Homo sapiens: one gene and its partners. The protein of the gene in region 1 purifies or fractionates together with the protein of each later gene. This does not show direct contact. Each region holds a gene or a part of one and is shown in the gene's direction. Other genes may lie near its edges.

Region 1 (4,078 bases):
CAAGTTGTCACGATCATGAACCTAACCACACTCCCCCCTGCGGCCAATTTCCTATTTTGCTGTTCAAAAGAGGGAAATGCACATATCAAAAGGAAAACAGCTTGGTGCTGGCCAGCTGCAGAAGGGTGGAGGTCTTTGGTGCTCAGAAGAGAGAGCAGCTCCTGCGGCAGTCCTGCGTGTGTCGCTGTCCAGACCTCGGTGCTGAATACTAGGCACTGGTATCTCCCGCCAGGTTCAATCCCTCAGGGTTCGAATAGGCTCCACCATGGGAGACTGAACTCACTTCCCTAGGGTGAGGGGTGGAGAATTCATTTAGATGTTTCCTTGCTCTCCTCCCACAGGAAACCATTTTTCCACAAAGAGGCATTGTGCATTTTATGGGAAAGTAATGGCACAGCTCCAGCTCAGCACCAAAGTGAAGAGCTCTACTGAGGCACAATGGAAAGTCGAGGTAAATAAAAACTGCTCTTTCCCTCCCTGAATCAACACAACAGCTTTTGGGATCCTAGATCCCCTTGTTGACGAATTCTTAAAAATATGTTTTTTTAAAATCACATGATTAATCATTTTACTGATAAACACCCTAAAAGGTGGTGGTGGCGCTGGCTTTGCAATATCGGAGTATAACTACTGATATTGTTTTACTGAGGTTGAGAAACAAAGGGGAGGAGGGAAGTAAACTTGTAAACTAAGGTGGCTTGAATGGTTAAAAATTCATTTTTAATAGTATTGCTTTAACATAGACATGCTAATTTTCTCAGACAATTTAGAACAGAATTGGGACAGTAGTAGCTTCCCTTCTTCTCCTTACTCTCCTAGCCTCTCTCTTTGAAAGACCTAAGAGCCTTGTTCTTCATAGCAGGTGCTGATGCCCAAAGGGCCATTATAAGAATCCTATAGCCTCCCCCCCTCCCCGCCACACACATGAGATAATAAAGTAAATACAGAGAAAATGGATGGAAGGGAGGGAAAGCACTCCCAGCCTTTGATTCTTGGTAGTTATGTTCAAGTGGGGCACTTCTCTTTGAAAAGTGAAAATGTTTCTCACGGTACAGAATTTATGGGCAGACAAGGAGCAGACTTAACTGATCCCAGCAAACAGTTCCTTCCTTTTCCTAATCCCTGGCTGCTTATTTTAGCCGCTTCTCCGCCCCGCCGGGAATACCATTCGGATCTTAGTCCAGGTAGATCTGACGTCAAGAGATGGCTTTCGTCGATTTGACGTGTAAACACTCATTTCCATTCTGGCTGGGAAGGGCTGGGGCTCCACTCAGCCTGGAGACCGAAGCGCTTCACTGAGCGCTCGCCGCCGCCCAGCCTCTCCTCTCGCGCCTCCTAGCTCTTCGCAGAGCAACCAGGAGCCAGGAGTGGTCTAGAGCCCGAGGGTGGGAAGGGGGAGTCTGTCTGGCTTTTCTCCTATCTTGCTTCTTTTTCCTCTTCCCTTCCCACTCTTGTTCAAGCGAGTGTGTGAGCTATGGAGCGAAGAGCCTGGAGTCTGCAGTGCACTGCTTTCGTCCTCTTTTGCGCTTGGTGTGCACTGAACAGTGCAAAAGCGAAAAGGCAATTTGTCAATGAATGGGCAGCGGAGATCCCCGGGGGCCCGGAAGCAGCCTCGGCCATCGCCGAGGAGCTGGGCTATGACCTTTTGGGTCAGGTAAGAGTTTCCACTTTCAAGAAACTTTCTGGGGCCCCAGGGGACTGGCGGGACTGGAGCGCGGTCTTCCAAGTGGGAGCCCCAGGTTGCACTCTCCAGAGCCCAGAGTAGCAAAGAGCAAGGAGCTGCTCCAGCCCTCGCCCCTGTCGCGCTTGGAGAGAGAGAAAGCTTGCATTATTTACTGTTTAGGCTGGGCGCAGCCAAGCAGAAGGAAGCCGCTGCAGCTGGGTAGGGCTTATGCTTACTGTTGGCCGCTCTAGAATTGAAATCCGTTCCCGCGCGGTTTGGAAGAAAAATCCCTCCACGCTTGTTCAGGGAACTTGAGATACACTCAAGCTCTTACCAACCAAGCGCCCCCGGGAGAAGCAGTGCGCTCCATCCCCCGGGACTGAGGCGGTCTGCGTCAGGAGCCGGCTGTTGCCTTCTTTTCAATATGGCAGCATCAGATCCAAGTCCTGATGCAAGGGGCTAAGCAGGCTTGGGGCTGTCCGCCCTGGCAGCCTGTAAGGGCACGCCCAGGGCATTGGAAGAGTGCCAGCTGCTGGGACTCGCGACCAGGAGGTTGGGAGGCCGCGGAGTAGCCTGGGAAGCTGGGGGGAGAAATGGTGGGTGAAAGACACGGGACCATCTATCCCCGCGACTCTCTAGGGAGCTCCGGCTTTTCACTGGGAACTTATAAAGTCCAAGCTTCATAACTTTGCCCGGCCAGTCCCACTGCAGGGTCGAGATGCCGAACTGACTATGGGGAAGGGATCTATTTCTTTCTTGTTCTTCAGCCAAGTACGTAATCGTTTTCCCGGGAATTTCAGCTTATTGTTGCCTGTCCAAGTGAAGGCTTGGTCGATAGGTAGCTGGTTGGAGGTGGGTGGGCGTCAAGACATTAAGTGGGAGACTGCTTATAGCTGAGCGATTCCGAGGGGACCCTAGGGAGTGTGACTTCTAGTCTAGAGCTTTCCTTTCCTTGGCTCGGAATCAAGCCCTCGCCCCCTGCTTGGGAAGTTGGTCTGCATTGAAGCGTGGGAGGAGGCAGTTGTAAAACATTTTGGCGCGTTTTTTCTGGAGGTGGTGGTTGAGACGCCGCTGGAGTCACGGATGAGTAATCGGCGGGGGCGTTGGCGATTCTGTAGACCGAACCCTCTGGGGAATTCGCCTGCTCTTGCTAGAGGCTTCATTCTCAACTTTATAAACCAAATTGTCTTTGAAATGCCCGAAAGGAAAATCAATGCAGATTGGCTTCCTGGTGTCCCAGCAGCAGATGAGTCTTTTGCTTTTGGCCAGCCCTTGCCCTCGTGCCAGGCTCCGTGTTAGGGGCTGAGGAATAAGAGGAGGGAAAGAAACGCTCTCAAGTAATCAAGAATCTAGAGGAGACTAGCTTAGAGATAAATGATTGCAACTGATTGTAATTTGTGTAATCATAGAAGTTGTACTTGAAGTCTCAATATTCATTGGTTGAAGGAATGAAAGTAGTAGGGAATTCGGGAGGGGTGAATGAAAACTGCCCAAAGGAGAAAACATTTGCTCCGGGAACAGAAGTCAAAGGTTGCCAGGAGCACATAATGAGATCGGAGAAGACAGTCTAGGCATAGAAAACAGCTTGTGGGAAAACAGTGAGACATAATACAGTTTAGTAGTAAGTCTGGGAATTGCACGCAATTATTAGGAATTTTTGAGACCCAAAGAGGGTATGAGTAGCAGAGGAAATTGTGCTGGTGGGTACTGTGGACATCATACAAATCATGTATGACCTATGGGGGTGGACACTGGGGATTTAATTGTGTATTCCTTGAGCAGCTACTGAAAGGCTAAATAGCACTGGTAACCGTGTAGGAGGAGACTGGGGAAGACAGCAAAAACTAAATCTCTCTTCTTTTTCCCACCTGTTAGCTCTAGGCATGCATCTAAACCTAGACCATTCAATGTGAAAACTGCTTTTCAAAATAAATAAACATAAATCTTAATAGTAAAAAACAATACATCATCATTCTTGGGAGGATCTTTGAGTAAGGGATAGCATAGTCACAAAAGCATTAACAAATAGTGGGGGAAAACCATCTATATTTATATATGATTTACAATACTATCTTTCCTCTAACCATTTTTAGTTAAGATGGCATTACTAACAAAAGTTTTAAAACAAACTTAACAAAATTATTTTATTAGAATAATAATTCTTTGTAGAAGGCTGATAGCACGTTCCTGGTTCTGCTTATTTCTCTTTTTGTTTAATATTACTAAAATTACACTAATTTAGCATTACTATATTGGGTACCTTATTGCCTCAGGATAAAGCTTGGATTAAGGTAGTGACAAGAAGAAAAACCAGTTGACAGCAGAGAAAACAGAGCTAAGCACTGGTGATCTTTTTCTGCGGCTGCTGATTTCTCTCCCCAGTTCCATCCACAGCTTATAGGAAGATTCACTGAG
Region 2 (3,566 bases), on another chromosome or scaffold:
CCCCAAGACAAGTATATGAAGAGCAGCCCCATTTTCCACACAAGGAAGTCAGGCCCCAGAGAAGGTGGAGAATGTGTCAGTCCCTCAGCCTGGAGGGCCAGGAGCTAGCATGTGGACATCTGTCTGTCTGTCCTGAAGGCTGTATGCCGCACCCAGCCCTCTGCTCCCAGCAACCCCTGCATGCGCATGGAAGGCTGTCTGCAGGTGGGGGCGATTGCCGCTGGCCCAGACCAGCCAGATGTAGAACACTAGGGCTTCTGAGACCTGGGCAGACATGGGCAGTTTCACATGTAGGCCTGTGTCGTTGCGTTTACTGGAAGACACCTGGCAGCCTTCACTCAGAGCAGAAGGACAGGCATCATGCCTGGGCTCTGGGCTCTGCAAAGGTAGTGCTGGCAAGGCTGCCTGAGAGTCGGCCCCTGGCAGCAGAGACTGCCCATGGCGGTGCTTGGCTCCTGGCGCAGTGTGGCCACCCCTTCTGCCACCTCCCCCATAAGATTGGGCTGTTTTCAGGTACTCCTCTGGTCCTGCACCACCGATGCCACCACCGGCCCAGGGAGGATCAGCCCTGCAGGAGGCAGTGCTGTGAGCCTGTGTGGGTGCAGGTGGGTCTAGGCCATCCCTCTGCTCCAGTGTCCTTGCTCTGCCCCAGTGAATGCTGGAGGGTGAGGAGATGGGAAACCCAGGAGTCTCCCCAACCCCTCAGCTTCCCTCTCTGGGTGCCATCACCATCCCATGTGGCATTTTGTGGGGCTGCATACCCCCTCTATGAAAGACTGTGGGGTGTTTCTAGGTCAGACCTCAAGCATCACGGAGGCAGCAGGACTGGGCTCAATCCCCACTTGGTGGTAGCGTGTGGTGGGTCTTTGGGTTTGAGGCGGGAAGAGCATGAGAAGCCGAGCTCTGGGGAGCAGTTACTGAGTGGTAGCATGTGGGGCCCAGTCAGATGGGAGCCCCACTGGAAGGGCTGCATGATTCAGGCGGGAGGCAGACTCGGGCCATCCCCTGCCAGCACTTTTCGGGCACTTCTCTGCAGCCACCTGGACACTCACTGGCACCTGCTCTCCTCTCCTTGAGGCCCACTCCACAGCAGTATTTATAGGTGAGGTGACATTTTGTTTGCAAGAAGGTTTTCATCTCTTAAGACTGTTCTTGCCTTCTCAGAAACTCAGTTGGCTCTGTGAAGATTTGCTGTCTGTTTTGGGTTTGGGTGGGGTATGTTATGCTGAAAAAAATAGTCCTAGACCTAGGGGATGAGGTTGCTCCAGCCAAATGACAGTGAGCTGGTGGTAGCCAGAGGTGTGGGCTGCAGTGCCCTGAGGGAGTGGAAAAGCCTCCCACACACAGGGTTTTGCAGGATGAGCGGGGTGTGGAGTGGAAGCAGCACTCAGAAAGCACAGTTGGGTTTCAGACACATCATGCGAGACCCCGCCACTCACAGCAAGGGGGGGCAGTGGAGATGGGACGGCATGAGTGGAGAGGGGCCCCTGCAAGCAGGCCAGTTGCTTTCTGACTGTGGGACTTGTGGCCTAATCTCTTTGTTCCTTTCCTGAAAGTGCCCCTTTCCTGATAGGGCATTGTCCCAAGTCCCCAGCTTGCAAGGGATGTTGTTTTGGAAAAACATGGCAGGTACACGCCCACACAGGAGTGTTCAAGTGCTGATCCCAGACCACCCAACCCAGGGTGGAGGCTGTTAGAGGACATTTAGGATCCACAGGTGGGCAGAGGGAGGATGTCCAGCCACCAGAGACCACACACATCCTACCCCAGCCGTGGTGAAGATGGGGCTGTTTTCCTTGACCATGGAGCAAAAACCATCCAGGACAGCTCTCCCCCTCCATGCCACCAGTTGCTCCTGAGCCAGCTCTGTGGGTGCTGGGAGCTGCGCTAAGGATTTGCACCTGTCCCCACCAGCTTGTGGCCTTCTGCTGCCGCGGTGCCTCTGCCCTGAACTCCCTCTAGGGCTCAGGACCTTTGGGGCCTCACACCTACCCCACTGTTGGTCCTTGATTCCTTGACTCACACAGCGTGTGGTCTGGGGCTGGGGCTGGGGCCCAGCTCACTGCGGGGGGATGCCTGTGGGGGTGACACGCCGCAAGTTCCACGGGGCCACCTCGGGAGGTCTTGGGTCCTCTCTGTGCAGACCAGGCGCTGAGGCTGCGGTGGAGGGCAGGGAATCCATAGGGATTCAGCTGCCTGCTCAGGCCCTGGGCTGTGTGTTGGGTGGGCTTCTGGAAAGCTCTGCTGGGAGTCCAAGGAAGAGAGGAGTGCCCTGGGCAGCCCCTCCTACCTTGTGGCTGGAGCCGGTGGGTCTCATGGGCCCAGATAGATACCTGTCTGAGCCTCAGTCTTCCCATCTCTAAAAGGGGGGTGGCAGTCTGCCATTTGGTTCTGTAGAGGAACCAGTGACTTATTAACTGTGACCGTGGTGACCGCATGATCCCTCAGCCACGGACTGTGTCCATGTCTTATGGGAGCCATGGCCACTCATAACCCCTTAGCATTCTGCAGCCTAGTGCAGGCCCAGTTCCTCATCTGGAGAGCGAGCCGTCAGCAGCTGTCCGCGTGCCATGGGGAGACTGACCGCGGGGCCAGGGCTTCAGTGAGAGGCAGCTCCCGACAGCCTGCACCTGGCCTGCCTTTGAAGGCCACACGTGACCAGCACAGCTGCCTAGGATTATTTACACAGAGAACGTTAAAAGGCCCAACAGGAGGGCCATCAGAGCAAATCACTAATTGTCTGGAAAGATACAAACTGGAGAGATTGAAACTCTGGAGTTAATTGTTTACGAAGCTTTGAAGGCCACAGAGGTCAGTGGCCGTGGGTGACCGCCCCCGGTGGTCATGGGCAGGGGCAGGGGCCTGTTATCTCCCTGTGACAGGGCCTCCTGCTGGGGCAGGCCTGGTCCTTGTCCAGGATCCCAGCTGTTCCCTAGGAGGGGCTCTCCACTGGTCAGCCCAGGCCGCTGCTCAGAAGCTGTATCAGGTGGACATCTCTGGGGCCAGCCCAGTTTGCATTCTAGCTCTGGCCCCATTCCTGCCTGGAGAAGTTGGGAACATTCAACCTCATTTTCTTTTCCCACCTCACGGAGTGGTAGGAGATGAGAGTTCACTCTGTAAGCTCCACACTATCCTTCACCCTCCACAGCAAACTAGGACAGAAGGTTCTATGGGTAACCCAGCAACAAGGAGGGCAGGTGAGGCTGGCCAAGACCCACCTCGGGGCTGGGAAACCCCGGGACCATACCAGGGGTGTCAGCAGAGCAAAAGAGAGGCCCCAGGCTTGCAGTCAGACCAGCTGGGCCAAATCCTGGCTTTGCATCTCACAGGCTTCTGCAGCTCAGGTTCCCCATCTGTAAAATGGGCATACTCATAGTGCCTGTGCAGGAGGTAGACAGTTGGAATTATACCCACAGTTCCACTGTGGCCTCTGTACTATAAGAGGCTAGAATCTGACCCATCTGTCCTGGAGACAGGGAAGAGACCTCCAGAGCCAGCTAGGAAGTCAGCTCTTGTTCTCACTCCATGAATTAGTTGGTTTGCAGGGAGCTTCCCTCAAAGCAGCT
Region 3 (3,566 bases), on another chromosome or scaffold:
AGCAAATTTTTATAACAAATTGTTTTTTTTAATGTAAGTTGATTTTTTAGCCTATTTGGAGTTTATGAGAAACTATAGTATTTGGAACACGAATGTATTTTTGAAGACAGATCCTTTGCATAGGTTACAGGGGTAGAGCAGAGACTGTGGTATAGGAGGAAAGCTTAGGTCATCGTGGGTAAGACTGTTGCACATGCATGAGACTCATTTGCAAAACCAGGCTCTAAAATGCTTTACAAATTTTAGTAAAGGAAGTAGGTGTGGAGTACAGTGGAGCTGAAATGTAAACTTGTGTTAATTTTTAAAATATACAAACATTAACTTGCAAACTAGTGAGTTTGCTTGTGATTTACAATATCTTAACAATTATCCATGTGGGCCAAAAACACAGATTTGTTTAAAAAAAAATCCCAAGAGATGTTAATGGCAGGAATATGGTATTAGTGCCTCTTGTTTAAAGTGACCTTGACAAAATCGAATCCTGGTCTTGGACTCTATCATCAGAAGTCCTTAGGTGCAGTCTGCGCCCTGCCCCTAATTGGCCATGTGCCATAGAGATGGCACTTGTACCCTCTCAGTACATATTTCTTTTAGCTAAAAAATGAGGATGATAGGTTACACAATCACTTCCAGCCATAATTATCTATGATCCTCTGTATCATTAACTATGACACACATATCCCATGTTAGAACTTTCCAGGGGAAGCTAGGATTTGGAGTCTAGGCAGCTCTGGAAGGTCAGCTGGTCAGAACATAGGAACACTCATAGGAAATTTTTATTCATGGATAGATACACAGGAAAGCATTCCAAGACTGGAAGATCAGTCAAAAGGCAGAGAACAAGTTGAAAATACTTTAAGAAGAGGTCAATGCAGAATCCAGGCTCCACCAGAAGAGAAGATCCATTAGGGCAAAGATTTGGGGATATCTTTGTTATTTGGGTTGGTTTGTTTGCTTGCTTTTTTCCCCCACCTTGCTGTGTCTTAGAAGAGTCTTCAGCGTATAGAGGTGCTCCACAAACATTTGTCAAATAAATAAATGAATCAAGGTTGTTAGTCCAGCAGGAACCACTGGAGACCCAAGTGGCCAGGTTCCACCAGGGTTAGGGGCTGAGCTCTGGCCAATGGAGACAGAAGGGCTGGGTCAGAGTAAGACTAACTAGATACAGCTCCAGGGACTCTTAAGGGGTATTTCTAGCCCCTACCTAAGCTTCTGGGAGGTCAATCCTAGATAGCAGTACTATGTACCAGGCACTTGACTTTATAGTCATGCCTGCCAGAGAAGGCTATTGCATGGGGAGCCAGGGAGAGCCTGACACCATGACGACAGCTCCTGACCTGGACTGGGAAGGCAGCATGGGAACAGGTACTGACTAGGGGCTCTAGAAGCAGCAGAGGGACCTCGGTTGAACTTGGTTGAATGGATAGTGCAAGTGTTAGGGGGCAGCACTAATGTAATGTCTCTTAGGTGGCTTTATTCTAAGGTTTTGCCTGAGATAATATTGCATTTCTAGAGAGGACTAGAGATTGAACCTACATAATAACCCATCTTTATGTATTAAATTGGGGTATATGTATTCTATATGTATTTTAAATGGGGAATGCTATTTGCTAAATTGGATAAGAAAGAACAATTTTAAGGCTTACTTTTCAACACCATTACACTTGACCAACATTCTTGACACTTTTTATGAGAACCCCATTTCATTATGATCCTCTTTATTATATAAAACACACAATTAAGTTAAACATTATTTTTTCCCCTGCTGTCTTCCTTAGCTTGGTTGGGTTACAGTCAGCCTCTCCTTGTATCCACTTACTCCATTCAGCATAGTGCCTTGGGGTTAGTTTAGATTCTGTTTTTAGGGGCAATTAGTAGCTAAATCTCAGAACAAAGTCAGAAGAATATCCTAAGAAATCAATCATCTTGGCCACACCAATCCTGGATCCATTCAATTATTTACTTTTTCCTTTCCTACACCTCTTTTTCTAAAAGCTGCTAAAGAAACTCGTCCCAACAGAAGTCATTTTTTTTCTCTGGCCCTTTACACTGCCTATTGAGACTTCTATGTACATGTTATAATTAGTAAAGTTTGAAAACATTTTTAAATTCATAGCAGTTTTCTTTATTATATATTTATTTAGCTATAGGACAGGGCCCAGCAATCTGTGTTTTAAACTAGCACCTCAGGAGATTCTGATTCATCAACATTTATTGACTGCCTACTGTGTACACTGTCTAGGAGGACAAAACAGCCAAAGACCCTCATCTTAATAAATTCACACTTTAGTGGGGGAATTCTGAAGAAGGTGTTCTTAGGAAACACTGCCCTAAATTGGTGAGGCCCACCATCCCTGCAGCAACCATCTACAAGGTCCTGCCCATCCTGCCTCAGCCCTCTCCTCCTCAGCTACCCATAGACATTTCTGCAGCTCCACCTTTATCACTCTTTCCTGAAGCCTGCATCAGCTTCCACTAGTCTCTGGGCACCACAGTAATCCTTGCAATCCCCAAGTCTGAACATGCCACTTCTCTGCTTTAAACCCTTCAGTGTCACTGCATCACCTTCAGGGTAAAACCCAGGTTCTAAATTCAGCCCTTGTTGACCTCTGCAGCCTCATTGCTTCCACACCCTGCATTCCAGCCAGACCCAGCCCCTCCTCCCAGTTCCCGATGGAACCTTTATACCTGTGTACCCACTCCTCAAAACATCCTTTTCTTTTATTTTTCTGACTAATACTCTAGTGTTCAAAATTCAGCCCATATCCTTCCTTCTCAGGAGGTCCCCTCTGAGTGTCGCCCAGCCTGAATTGCTCCCTTTCTGCCCTCACCCTGCTGTTAGATCTCTGTGGAGGTCTCTGCTGTGGCTGGATGTGGATTATGTGAGCCACTCTAACCAGACTGGTTGCCTCCTGTAGGCAGTAATCTCCTGGACCTAGCACAATACCTGGCCTCAGTAGGTATTCAAAAATTATGTGTTGAATGGAGTAAGTTTCCCAACATCAGTAACACACAATAACAACATTTATTCACATTTCATTTAAGTCAGCATTCACTCGTAGTCTTGCTGACATTCTTGTACCATGGGAAGGTGGTAATCCCCCTGGGAAATGCCAGTGAGTGCAGTCACATTGCCATCATTTCCCAGCAATAGTTGATGAGGTGTTTTGGGTTCACTGTTAAGACTGCTTAATAGTGCTTAATGTGACTAGCTAATACAGTAATTAAATTCATTCTGCAAACCCTAAGAAAATGCAAATCTTTTTAAAAGGTAGTATTTTAGCCCACAAAGTGGATTTTTTTTTTTTTGTATTTGTTTTGTTTTGGCAGATGCTTGCTCAGAAATCTGGCAATATTATCAACATGTCTTCTGTGGCTTCCAGCGTCAAAGGTGGGTCTGTCTCCTTCCGAGGACTGCGATGCTCATACACGCACATCATTAAGAGCTCTGCGTTTGGGAACAGGCATAGCAGAGATTATAATTTCAAGTATTGAAATGATTTCAAAACTGCTTTTTTCAAAATTGGTATTAAGTTCCTTAACCACAGATCTTTTGCTCTCGATGT
Region 4 (3,566 bases), on another chromosome or scaffold:
ATAAGCTTGAGACTTGTGAACCAAATGGGGCCGCAGAGAAGGAAGTCTGGTGTCAGTGCACTAAAGGCCACAAGATGGGGGTGTTGCTCAGTGAGAGCGGAAACAGCCAGGCTATTAAACGTGAGCAGCAGAAGATCCAGATAGTTAGTGCTGATGCTGGAGAACTCCCTGTAGGTGGGGCAGGTGGTGTCGGCTTTTCCACCACTCATCACAGAGCTTGATCTTTTTTTTGCATGGCTGTGGGGAGTGAGGGGGAGGATGTCTTTACAGATGTCACTGGGGCCTCATTACTTCACCCCAACTGTTTTCCTCATTCTTACTTTCCCATTTCTTTCTCCATTCTTCCCTGCTCTCTCCCCCAACTACCCATATTACAAAACTAAGTATAGTTTTTTATTATTCTTAATTCTTTATTTTTTTAAAGTATGAATAAGCATTTTAGTCTGTTTCTTCTCTCTTCCTCTTTCTTGTGCATACACCTGTGTACACACATGCACACACACATATACCCCACCGTTGATTTTTATGAGGGTGAATGGTCTCAACAGCAGAAAGGCTTACTACACTTGTTTTTGCAAGTATTTGCAGATCTTTGTAGTTCCTAATATGTTATCTCACACTGTAGCCTACAGATAAGAATTGGGGGGGAAAAGTATTAATTTATGTTATTGATGAATTCTATGAGATTCCCTTACTCTAGATTCACTCATCCATTCAATACCTGTGCAAGGCTCTGGAGGATGCAATCATGAACAGCATGGACTTGAGTCCTTTTCCTCAGAGAGCTGTGGAAAAACAGCGTAGAGGGAGACACAGATGCCGGCAAGTTCTGTGAGAGGGCTAGCACACGAATTGAGAGTCTATGTGTACTTACAAATATATAATCAAAATGAATCATGGAAAATGAAACTGAGAAATAAGTGCACATTTGTATTTTCAGGTTCCAGAAGCCAATATCTTGGGACAAATTGGACATGGCTATAAGTATGCCATAGGGAGTCTCAATGAAGGTAGAATAGGAATTGCTGCACAGGTAAGTCAGATTTAAACTCTTCCATGATGTGAGTCAATTAAACTGTGAAAAGAAAAAAATGCAATGAGACCAATGAATATTTGGAAGCTTATGGACACAAGATGGCACCGTTCCCTTACATGAGGGATAGAATGGCTTATTATTTCTTTCAAATTCCCTTTTGGTCAATTATGTAAGTGTCCATAGAACCAAACAATGGCTTGGTGGTAACAGTGTTTCTGCTTTGAGAACATTAAAGTATTATCTAATACCTGAACCGATAGCTTTTCAAATGTATTGTAAATTAAATATGGCACTTTAAAAAAAATCAACTTTTCAAAGCATGAAATTCATTCTGGAAGGAATTTTTTACATTAAGAATAAATAATATTCCTTCCACTGTGTAGTAAAGATATCTATAGTTAATAAAAGATTTGTTGCTTACTGTTTTGCATGTGAAAACTGGGCAAGTTTTTTGGCGGCACATGAAATAAAATAGCCACAGTTAAGTAGATACATAAAATGAGAACTATTCAAAATTTTTTTTTACCAAATTTGGCTTTTATAATGCATATTGCATTTTTCTATTAAGTAATATCAGTTATTTTCCAGATTAACAAAATGAATAAGGTCTTTGGCTTTACTTTAGTGTCAGTTTTGTAGAGTGTATATATATATATATATATATATATATATATATATATATATTTTTTTTTTTTTTTTTTTTTTTTTGAGATGGAGTCTTGCTCTGTTGCCCAGGCCGGAGTGCAGTGGTGCGATCTCGGCTCACTGCAAGCTCCGCCTCCTGGGTTCATGCCATTCTCCTGCCTCAGCCTCCCGAGTAGCTGGGACTACAGGCGCCCGCCACCACGCCCAGCCAATTTTTTTTGTATTTTTAGTAGAGATGAGGTTTCACCATGTTAGCCAGGATGGTCTCAATCTCCTGACCTCGTGATCCACCCGCCTCGGCCTCCCAAAGTGCTGGGATTACAGGCGTGAGCCACCGCGCCCGGCGTTTGTAGAGTATATTTTTAATCAGTGATTATACAAAACTCAAGAACTTAGAGCTTTTCAGTTTTGAAGATGTTACATATAAGCTATTGGAATAAATATTAGATTATTACTCTAGATTTTTTTCTGCTGCTGTTACTTTGCTAACTATTTTTAGACCAAAACTTAGTCTAGTTTTCCTACAATGCTTGACAGTGTGTCACTAAAGAATATTGTTTTATCAGTTCTCTTAAAAGTTTTTCTGTGATTCAACTTAGACATGACATTAGAAACTGCAATACTAGAGCTCATTTTTTTCAGACATATAAATAATATAGATGTTCTGGCAATAAAATACACAGCCTGGGCTTCAGTTTAATTACTCCAAGTTATATAATAACCTAATTAAAAGTTAAGATCAGGTAGTTACTATCTCAGTGGATACCTTTGAGAGGAAGAGGCACACGGAGTATAACAGTGAACTGAAGGCATCTGTCCTCGAAACCTTGCAGGCAGAGAGAATTCAGTTTTTCAGTGTTTGTAGTAGAAACATTTTACTGAGGTAGAAAAGCCCATTTTGATGGATAACTGATTATTTCAGTCTTCGTGTCAATATAGGGTATTATTTATGTACAAATTTTAGCTGTAAGGGTATAGTGACATCATCTTATCTCACAGCCAAGAGTGCAGTGAGTCTGCTGCCTCATTTGAATTTGGGGTTTGTGGTTTTCTTGTGCCTTTAATTTTTAACATATTATTCTGTTCTCTAGAGAGTTCAGAATAAAAGACTAAAAGAAAATGTGAATGAATACTAATGAAATAAATTGATAAGTCTGCTGGGCATTTCCCCCAAAAGCTTTAGCTATTGATTTTCTAAAACCATAATTTGACATAATTACTGATTTAGTGGCTACCTAATGTTGAAATTTAGAAACGATTTCTAAGCTTGAATCATATAATAGATATGAAAGTTGGTTAGCAGTGAGACAGTTCAGCTAAAATTGTCACCACGTCCTGTGTAAATTAATGTTTTTACTAGATGCTTTCTATCCATTGTTCTCAACCCTAGCTGTGTATTAAGTCACTAAGGAGTTTTACAGAGTTGAGGTTTAGGTCACACTCCTTCACCTACTCTACTCCCAAGATTTGGATTCAGTCATTAGGCCTGGGTATCAGTATTGTTTTAAATCAGATTCCCCAAATGATTCTATGGTACAGCTCGGATTCAGAACCACTGCTCTCTTATGTTCTAATGCCCTCCCATTGAAGCTCTCATTAATCCTAATCATATACAAAATAGACGGAAAGGTAGAAAGTTAAGAAGTGACCTTCCATATTTTACTTCTAGAAGAACTGGAGGGCCTTCCTCTATAGCCTTCAAGGCCAGTTCTGAGCAAAACTTCTATGGCTCATTTTATACCTGGAGAATCAAAGCTTAAGGAAGATTCCTAAAGAGTAATCTTAACCTAAAAAGGTTGTGTGAACACAGCCTTGCTGGGAGATTTACCTCTGCTAGAATTAAATGTGCTCATATTCACATGAAATCACTCAAAATTTTCTCCCA

What was found.
Region 2: the proteins of PCSK1 (region 1) and HS6ST1 purify together in Homo sapiens (affinity purification with mass spectrometry; one large-scale study listed by BioGRID and IntAct). This does not show direct contact.
Region 3: the proteins of PCSK1 (region 1) and BDH2 purify together in Homo sapiens (affinity purification with mass spectrometry; one large-scale study listed by BioGRID and IntAct). This does not show direct contact.
Region 4: the proteins of PCSK1 (region 1) and ACADSB purify together in Homo sapiens (affinity purification with mass spectrometry; one large-scale study listed by BioGRID and IntAct). This does not show direct contact.

What each region holds. Positions count from the first base shown.
Region 1 is NC_000005.10:96,430,439-96,434,516, reverse strand, and holds the start of PCSK1 (neuroendocrine convertase 1 isoform 1 preproprotein), read left to right. Parts: upstream 1-1,268; 5' UTR 1,269-1,474; coding exon 1,475-1,654; intron 1,655-2,356; exon of another isoform or gene 2,357-2,395; coding exon of another isoform or gene 2,396-2,434; intron 2,435-4,078.
Region 2 is NC_000002.12:128,308,808-128,312,373, reverse strand, and holds part of HS6ST1 (heparan-sulfate 6-O-sulfotransferase 1), read left to right. Parts: intron 1-3,566. UniProt on the Homo sapiens protein: 6-O-sulfation enzyme which catalyzes the transfer of sulfate from 3'-phosphoadenosine 5'-phosphosulfate (PAPS) to position 6 of the N-sulfoglucosamine residue (GlcNS) of heparan sulfate.
Region 3 is NC_000004.12:103,086,305-103,089,870, reverse strand, and holds part of BDH2 (dehydrogenase/reductase SDR family member 6), read left to right. Parts: intron 1-3,330; coding exon 3,331-3,391; coding exon of another isoform or gene 3,392-3,495; exon of another isoform or gene 3,496-3,566. UniProt on the Homo sapiens protein: NAD(H)-dependent dehydrogenase/reductase with a preference for cyclic substrates. Catalyzes stereoselective conversion of 4-oxo-L-proline to cis-4-hydroxy-L-proline, likely a detoxification mechanism for ketoprolines.
Region 4 is NC_000010.11:123,043,453-123,047,018, forward strand, and holds part of ACADSB (short/branched chain specific acyl-CoA dehydrogenase, mitochondrial isoform 1 precursor), read left to right. Parts: intron 1-940; coding exon 941-1,033; intron 1,034-3,566. UniProt on the Homo sapiens protein: Short and branched chain specific acyl-CoA dehydrogenase that catalyzes the removal of one hydrogen from C-2 and C-3 of the fatty acyl-CoA thioester, resulting in the formation of trans-2-enoyl-CoA.